Linked DNA regions of Homo sapiens: region 2 is linked to region 1. The links come from fine-mapping of genetic effects on gene expression. A gene starts in region 1. The other region holds a variant in brackets. All regions are shown on one strand. Distances are between the middles of the regions. Region 1 holds the start of MIF4GD (MIF4G domain containing). Region 2 has its middle 2.4 kb from the start of SLC25A19.

The links. PIP is the estimated chance that this variant, and not a neighbour inherited with it, causes the effect. A credible set is the group of variants that fine-mapping cannot tell apart.
Region 2: its variant is the best candidate, but not a certain one, in a credible set for the expression of MIF4GD in whole blood (TOPMed, PIP 0.68).

The regions. Positions count from the first base shown.
Region 1 is chr17:75,269,548-75,273,924 of GRCh38, reverse strand. MIF4GD (MIF4G domain containing) reads left to right here and starts at 2,694. Exons shown (of 6, transcript NM_001370592.1): 1 at 2,694-2,781; 2 at 3,680-3,811. The coding sequence starts at 3,730. SLC25A19 (solute carrier family 25 member 19) reads left to right here. Exons shown (of 8, transcript NM_001126121.2): 8 at 286-933. The coding sequence ends at 474. MIF4GD-DT (MIF4GD divergent transcript) reads right to left here and starts at 2,626. Exons shown (of 1, transcript NR_036520.1): 1 at 30-2,626. RefSeq lists silencers at 1,268-1,317, 2,288-2,947, 3,058-3,127 and an enhancer at 992-1,779.
Region 2 is chr17:75,289,638-75,294,014 of GRCh38, reverse strand. No RefSeq gene overlaps it. Among named protein-coding and RNA genes, the nearest start is that of SLC25A19, 2.4 kb to the right of the region's middle. RefSeq lists enhancers at 4,074-4,123, 4,164-4,213, 4,304-4,377. The variant A/T (reference allele first, on the strand shown) is at 2,156.

The DNA of each region.
Region 1 (4,377 bases):
GCCAGGCGTGGTGTTGTGTGCCTGTAATCCCAGCTACTCAGGAGGCTGAGGCAGGAGAATCACTTGAACCTGGGAGGCAGAGGCTGCAGTGAGCCAAGATTGTGCCACTGCATTCCAGCCTGGGCAACAGAGTGAGACTCTGCCTCAACGAAAAAATAAAATAATTTGCTATTTTGCATTCATTTCTTTGTCCAGCAAGTACTTCTTAAGATCTGTGATGTGCCAGGGGCTGTGTTGATGGGAGCAGAGCGGGCATCCATATTTTCATCCCTTTCCTCTCCCCAGGTACGGAGATACAAGGGCCTCATGGACTGTGCCAAGCAGGTGCTGCAAAAGGAAGGCGCCCTGGGCTTCTTCAAGGGCCTGTCCCCCAGCTTGCTGAAGGCTGCCCTCTCCACAGGCTTCATGTTCTTCTCGTATGAATTCTTCTGTAATGTCTTCCACTGCATGAACAGGACAGCCAGCCAGCGCTGAGTGCAGGAAGGACCCCAGGTCTTCCCTGGAGGCAGCCTCCTGAAGGAAGGAAGATTCAGTCTCCACTGAGAGGTGCCGTCTGGCCCTTCCCTGCAGGCCAGCTGCCCCAAGCGGGGTAGCAGCCTTGAACCCACCCAGCTGGGACACCACCAGAAGGTCCAGGGCTCTCCCCATGAGAGAATCAGAGGGAATGCAGGACGTGGTCTATGGTGAGCCAACGACACAGTGAGAAGGAGCAGGAAGTTGCTGTTTCTCCTCTGACCAGCCCACACTCCAAAGGAAACAGACGCCATCCTACACCTATCAGCCCTGCCTGCCAGGAGAACAGAACACACTCCTGGTCTGGATGGGGCTGCTGCTTGAGTGCAGAGGGCTGCGGTAGGCCCTTTGCAGGAGTCAGGTCCCTACACTTGGCCTGTTTTTCCAACCTATTTAATAGACATTAAAGCTAAACACACATTCCTTATCTTACTCCATCTCCCCTGGCACATCTGCCTACTCACAAAGTATGAGGGAAAGGACTCCTGCCTTCCTCAAATCCCATGTTCTCCATAGCGGCAGCCCTTGGCAGCTCTGCTTCTAGTGCTGGGGGAGACTCCAGGCTGAGCCAGTCACTTTCTGGGCCCCGTGCCCAGACCTTCGTGTCTGCAGACACACCACCACCCAGGCTGTCCTCTCCCAGGACCGGGCTGGTCATGGCCGTGGGGCTCCATGGAAAGCAGATCCCAGCGCCCGTGCAGGAAGTGGATGGGCCATGCTGTGGGCAGGCGTGGGTGAAGGTGCAGCCTCTCCCCAGTCTACCTCACTGACTCCTCTTTCACCCAGAGCTGGGTCAGCCTTGCTGGGTGAGGAGCTATCAGCAGGACAGGTGGCATCAGCGCCCACTGCCTGCTCCTCAGTGCAGAGCATGCTGCGGGTGCATCCTCCCCTGTAGCCCCAGAAGGGCCGTGGCTCTGAAGCAGCCCACTGATGGGGATGGCAGAAGGAAGGGGCGGGCACGTAGCCTGGTGAGGGCACAGCTGGTGCCTGGGGTGTTACCAGAGCAGAGGGACACCCACAGGCGGAGAGGCAGAGGAGAAACCAGTTCCAGGCTGAGGGGAGGTCTCCAGAACATGACCTCCACCCTTCCCTCCATCTGCCCGGCCTGTAGGGTTGCTCCGACCTGGGAAGCCCTCCATTCTGCCTCCCTCTCCAGCCTTGGAAAGAGGCACCCACTGGGAGCCGGCGCTGGCCCTGGCCCTGGCGTGTGGGTCCTGGGCTCCTCCTCGCACCATCCTTCCCTGCCTCTGGTCTGGGATTTTGGGGTCTGTCTGGGCCCTGAATGCTGGGGCTTCCTGGCTCTGGGCTGCTGGTTCCCAAGGTCCAGGCTGCGGCGGGGGCCACGAGGATGCAGCTGCCTGAATGCATTTTTTATGAAATTCCGTTAAAGTTTCTTCTCTTCATCTTTCCTGCCCATTGGTTTCTTTTGCTGCAGCTGAGCGTTCTCTTCCTCCTCCGTTTTCGGTGACCACTTTGGCGGTTCTTTTAAAAGGAGGCGAGAACGCGGGCAGCGCCGGCAGCGCTCCTCCCGGTCGCGCGGCAGGAGCGGCGGCAGTTCTTCCCCCACTTCTAGGTGCCCTCCTGTCACCCAGGGCAGACGCCGGGCGGTGGGGTCCGCGCCACTTCAGGGGCATTCGCAACAACCGACGGCCGCGAGTTGCCAATGGGGCCCCTTTCTCGGGGCTGCCCCTATGACCTGAAACTCGCTTCGCCCATGTCCTCCTTGGAGCGGGAGAGGGTTGTGGCTGGCCCCGGCCCTGCAGCCCCTGCCTTCTCTACCTGGGTTGGGGGAGCGGGGAAAGTGGTGCGACCAGGGCTGATGCTGTTCCTCCTGCCACCAGGTCCCCACCACGCGCTCTGCAGGCTCTTCCCACGCCGCGCAGCCCAGCGGTGTCTCCCGGCCCAGTGCACCTGAGCTCCGGGGAGGGCTGGGTGCGGGGCCACGCGCAAGATCGAGGTGCCGGCGGGTCCGGCGTGGGCCCGGACACGGCCCAGGCGCACCGGGTGAAGGGGTGACGAGCCAAGCGAGTTCCGCTTGCGGCTGGGTGGCAGCGTCGCAGGGTCCCACGCAGGCGGCGCGGCTTCCGGGGCGGCCTGGAGGCCAGGGCAGTGCCCCGGGGGCCCGGCAGGTGGCGCGGGCGAGCCGACCCTTCCCCGGCGCCGCGCGAGGAGATGAGCTCACGGCGGGCCCCGCAGCGCCGGACGCTGGTTGCGCGCTCCCAGGCGCCGAGCGGCCCCGGGCACGCGCGCGCGCCACCGGCCCGGCAGGTGGGTCCCGGCTCCCACGCCGCCTCTCCCGCCCGCGGGACCCTGGGCCGTGGGCTCCGCAGCCCGCCCTGTGCCTCCGGGAGGGGCGTTCCGGGCGCGGGGGGAACGGCCGAGGGCTGGAGACCCTAAAGGCGCCTCCTACGGCCAGAGGGGAGCCTCCGGCGGGAGCCACCTCTCCGGGGCGCATCATCCTGCCCCCCAGTAAGAGGAAGGCTCCAGAATGGAGCTCAGGAATTAGGAGTCTCGAGTGCGTAGGGCCGGGTTACTGCCACTCGGGAGCCGATCCGACCAGCCTGTCCCAGGGAGAAGCTGGCACGGGTCTGGGGAGTTCAGGCTGCTCCCGGCAGGGGCGGCGGACAGGGCGCCTGCGTCCCCACCCACGCAGGCCGGCCCCATCCGGGGGATGCAGCGGCGGGTGTTGAGACCGAAGGACTCGGCGAAAGCCAGAAAGAGAGGGTTGGGGAGAGGGGCTCGGAGACCTGCTGGGGACAGAGTCGCACCGCTTGGAGTTCCCAGCCTGGCCCTCACCCGGCATCTTCCTGGGCCAGCAACGTCAGGCCGGTTTATTTAAGCAACTGTAACGTCCGCCCGCACACACCCTGCCCCAGTCTACTCCTGCCTCCTGCTGGGACTGGAGGGTGGGCGCTTTCCTGCTTCAGCTTCTCGCTCTTGTGTAATCCCACAAGCGAGGGATTTCTAAACTGAGCAGCAGGTGCCTGGCTGATGCCCAGTCCCCACCAGAAGCCAAGCCTGGTGGGCCTTCAGCCAACCACCGCACGCCACGGACCGCCCAGGAGTCCCTGTCCCGAGCGCGCCGTCAGCCCCGTCCAGGGCCTGCAGGACGGAACCCGCCCTGCGCTCCACACCTGAGGCCGCTCCCTTCGCCTCTTCTCCTCAGGTGCTGTCCTTATTCCCAGCCCAGTCAAGAGCTACCGGGGCTGGCTAGTCATGGGGGAGCCCAGTAGAGAGGAGTATAAAATCCAGTCCTTTGATGCAGAGACCCAGCAGCTGCTGAAGACAGCACTCAAAGGTGAGCACGGGACCCCTCCTGAGCTGGGGTCAGGAGCTACAGAGAAGGGCCCCTGTGGGCAGCACCAGAGGCTGAGCCTGGTGAATGCCTCCACCCCTCCCCTCATTCTCTGACGATAGGAGTCGGCAACGTAATTCTTGAACTGGAAGACAAGCTACATTGAGGCCATTATTTTGGAGTATGAATCACAGTCACCTCTCAGACTGTAAAGACTGTTTTAAAAGTTTAACCATAGGGCTAGGCGCAGTGGCTCATGTCTGTAGTTCCAGCACTTTGGAAAGCCAAGGTGGGCAGATTGCTTGAGTCCAGGAGTTCAAGACCAGTCCCGGAAACATGGTGTAAACCCCATCTCTACAAAAAAAAAAAAAAAAAGAAAGAAAAGAAAAATTAGCCGGGCATAGTGGCAGGCACCTGTGGTCCCAGCTACTTAAGATGCTGAGGTGGGAGGATTGATTGAGCCTGGGAGGGTGAGGGTGCCATGAGCCATGATCCTGCCACTGCACTCCAGCCTGGCTACAGAGCGAGACCCTGTCTCAAAAAAAAAAAAAAAAAAAAAAAAAAAAAAG
Region 2 (4,377 bases), 20 kb before region 1:
AGGGGTTTCACAATGTTGGCCAGGCTGGTCTCAAACTCCTGACCTCAAGATGACCAACCCAGCTTGGCCTCCCAAAGTGCTGGTACAGGTGTGGGCCACCGCATCTGGCCAGGAACCAATTCTTTTTTGAGACACGATGGCTGCAAACATCACAAAATGACAGACAAGCAGGCATTATGGTGTTCCTCATGGAAATACACAACACCATGTAAGTAGTCTCATTTAAAAAAAAAAAAAAAAAAAAAAAAAACGTTGGCCGGGCGCCGTGGCTCATGCCTGTAATCCTAGCACTTTGGGAGGCTGAGGCAGGTGGATCACCTGAGGTCAGGAGTTCGAGACCAGCCTGACCAACATGGTGAAATCCCATCTCTACTAAAAATACAAAAATTAGCCGGGCATGGTGGAGGGCATCTGTAATCCCAGCTACTCAGGAGGCTGAGGCAAGAGAATTGCTTGAACCCAGGAGGCAGAGGTTGCAGTGAACCAAGATTGTGCCACTGCACTCCAGCCTGGGCAACAGAGCGAGACTGTCTTTACAAAAAAAAAAATCAGGCCAGGCACAGTGGCTCATGCCTGTAATCCCAGCACTTTGGAAGGGCAAAGTGGGCAGATCACTTGAGGTCAGGAGTTTGAGACAAGCCTGGCCAATGTGGTGAAACGTCATCTCCACTAAAAGTACAAAAATTAGCCAGGTTTGGTGGCATGTGCCTGTAGTACCAGCTACTCAGGAGGCTGAGGCAGGAGAGTCGCTTGAACCCTGGAGGCGGAGGTTGCAGTGAGCCAAGATCACACTACTGTATGACTGTACTCCAGCCTGGACAACACAGCAAGATTCTGTCTAAAAAAAAAAAAAAAAAAAGGCTGGGCGCAGTGGCTCACGTCTGTAATCCCAGCACTTCGGGAGGCCAAGGCGGGCAGATCATGAGGTCAGGAATTTGAGACCAGCCCAACCAACATGGTGAAACAACCCCGTCTCTACTAAAAATACGAAAATTAGCTGGGCGAGGTGGCACATGCCTGTAATCACGACTACTCAGGAGGCTGAAGCAGGAGAATCGCTTGAACTCAGGAGGCGGAGTTTGCAGCGAGCTGCGATTGCGCCACTGCACTCCAGCCTGGAGGACAGAGTGAGACTCTGTCTCAAAAAATAAAGAAATAAATTTTAAAAATCAGGCCAGGTTCAGTGGCTGACACCTGTAATCCTAGCACTTTGGGAGGCTGAAGCAGACAGATTGCCTGAGCTCAGGAGTTCAAGACTGCCATGGGCAACATGGCAAAACCCCGTCTCTACAAAAAATACAAAAAATTAGCTGGGTGTGGTGGCGCGTGCCTGTAGTCCCAGCTACTAGGGGCTGAGGCAGAAGGATAGCTTGACCCCAAGAGGTAGAGGCTGCAGTGAGCTGAGATCGTGTCACTGCACTCTAGCCTGGGAGACAAAGTGAGACCTTATCTAAAAAAAAAAAAAGTCAAACCCAGTCTAATCAAACCTTTTAGATCTAATTACCAATTAGCAGAGAACACAAGGGACATAGGGGCCAGGTGTGGTGGCTCACGCCTGTAATCCCAGCACTTCGGGAGGCCAAAGCAGGCAGATCAGCTGAGGTCAGGAGTTCGAGACCAGCCTGGCCAACATGGTGAAACCTCATCTCTACTAAAAATACAAAAATTAGCTGGACATGATGGCGGGTGCCTGTAATCCCAGCTACTTGGGAGGCTGAGGCTGGAGAATCCCTTGAACCCAGGAGGCACAGGTTGCAGTGAGCCGAGATTGCACCATTGCACCACAGCCTGGACAACTGAGTGAGACTTTGTCTCAAAAACAGCAACAACAACAACAAACAAACAAACAAAAAACACAAGGGACACAGGAAGATGTGGAAACAACTCCATGGGGATGCGATCAGCAAAATCCAGACTAGGGAAAATGCCACAGCATAAACCACTTAATTTCTTTCTTTTAAAAAATGTATTATTTAGTTTTTGTAGAGATGGAGTGTCGCTATGTTTCCCAGGCTGGAGCACAGTGGCTATTCACAGGCACTATTTTTGCACACTACAGCTTTGAACTTCTGGGCTCAAGGGATCCTCCTCCCTCAGTCTCCCTAATATTGGGAATACAGGTGTGCACCCCCAGCCTGGCTCTATCTAGTTTCTT[A/T]AAAAAAAACAAATATAATAAAATAGAGAAAGAAAGGAAAATGAAAGGAAATGAAAGAAAACAAATTTCAAGTAAAAAAAAAGTAAAGTGGAGAAAAACAATAGATTTTTAAAAGGACTTCCAGTTGCAATGTTCAGTTCAGATCTCAACTCTTTTTCTTTTCTTTGAGACGGAGTCTCACTCTGTTGCCCAGGCTGGAGTGCAGTGGCACGATCTCGGCTCACTGTAACCTCTCCCTCCCAGGTTCAAGTGATCCTCCTGCCTCAGCCTCCCAAGTAGCTGGAATTACAAGCGCCTACCACCATGCCTGGCTAATTTTTGTATTTTTAGTAGAGACGCGGTTTCACATGTTGGTCAGGCTGGTCTTGAACTCCTGACCTCAAGCAATCCACCCACCTCAGCCTCCCAGTGCTGGGATTACAGGTGTGAGCCACTGCACCCAACCAAGATCTCAATTCAGACAAACATTTTTGTTTGTTTTCTGAGCTCTGTCACTTAGAAAAGCAAACTTGTGGCTGGGTATGGTGGCTGACGCTTGTAATCCCAGCACTTTGGGAGGCCGAGGCGGGCAGATCACGAGGTCAGGAGATCGAGACCACGGTGAAACCCCATCTCTACTAAAAATACAAAAAATTAGCCGGGCGTGGTGGCGGGCGCCTGTAGTCCCAGCTACTTGGAGAGGCTGAGGCAGGAGAATGGCGTGAACCCGGGAGGCGGAGCTTGCAGTGAGCCAAGATCGCGCCACTGCACTCCAGCCTGGGGGACAGAGCTAGACTCCGTCTCAAAAAAAAAAGAAAGAAAAGCAAACAACTTGTTTTAAGAAGGACATTTCAGCCAGGCACGGTGGCTCACACCTGTAATCCCAGAACCTTGGGAGGCCGAGCTGGGTGGATCACTTGAGGTCAGGAGTTCAAAACTAGCCTGGCCAACATGGTGAAACCCCGTTTCTACTAAAACTACAAAAATTAGCTGGGTATGGTGGTGCAGGCCTGTAGTCCCAGCTACTCAGGAGGCTGAAGCAGGAGAATCACCTGAACCCGGGAGGTGGAGGTTGCACCGAGCCGAGATCGTGCCACTGCATTCCAGCCTGGGTGACAGAGTGAGACTCTTGTCTCAAAAAAAAAAAAAAAGTTTGAGACCAGACTGACCAACATGGCAAAACCCCATCTCTACTAAAGATACAAAAAATTAGCTGGGCATAGTGGTGCACGCGTGTAATCCCAGCTACTCGGGAGGCTGAGGCAGGAGAATCGTGTGAACCCCAGAGGCAAAGGTTGCAGTGAGCTGAAATAGCACCATTGCACTCCAGCCTGGGCGACAAGAGCAAAACTGTCTCAAAAAAAAAAAAAAAAAAAAAAAAAAAAAAAAAAAAAAAAAAAGAAGAACATTTCTTTCTTTCAGAAAAGTGTAAACACTAATTCATATTTGATATTAAAAGTTTTTTTGGGGGGTCGGAGTGACAGTTTTGTGTGTGTGTGAAGCATAATGTATACGTATTAAAAAGGGAATGCTTGTCCTTTAAAGACACATACTGAAATATTTACTGGTGAAAACACGTGATGGTATTTACTTCAGAATAACGCTGGGCAGCGCGTGCGAGGTAGGTGCAGAAATAGAGGAAACAAGATTGCCCCATGAGTCGCGTAACTGCTGAGGTCGGAGAGCGACTCTACGCGGCTTCATCGGGTTATTCCACTTCTGTGTATCTTGAAATTTTCTACAATAAAAATGTCTTAAAATTGTGCGTCAAAATGATAACACGAATATAAAAATGCAATTAAAAAGTCAGGAGGCAATACTGTCGCGCAAAACCGTGACGCTAGTTGTGTGCGGGCGGTAGGATGAGTCATTTCCTCCTTCCTTTCTATATTTTCTGTCTATATACTTTTAATATTACTTTTATAATGAGAAATACTAAAACTCGGGGTGAGAGGGGGGGACACTCGTGTTTTTGCCTTCCCCGTCCCCGAGGGGACTGTTCTCATCTATTCTCTTCCCGACGTCCTCCAGCTTTTTGCTAGGCTTCCTGCCATCTTTACCAAGTTGAGATTATCCGGGTTCTGGCATTAACAGAGTTTGAGGAAAGCGGGTCAAGTCTACCGCGCCCTAACCTTGGACCCCGCCTGCAGGCTGACTTTCGAGTCACACGCCAGAGCACGGCGACCCCTAAGGTCGCAGCCCGGCTTCGCAAGGCACCTCCTTCTAACGCGTCGGTCGAACTC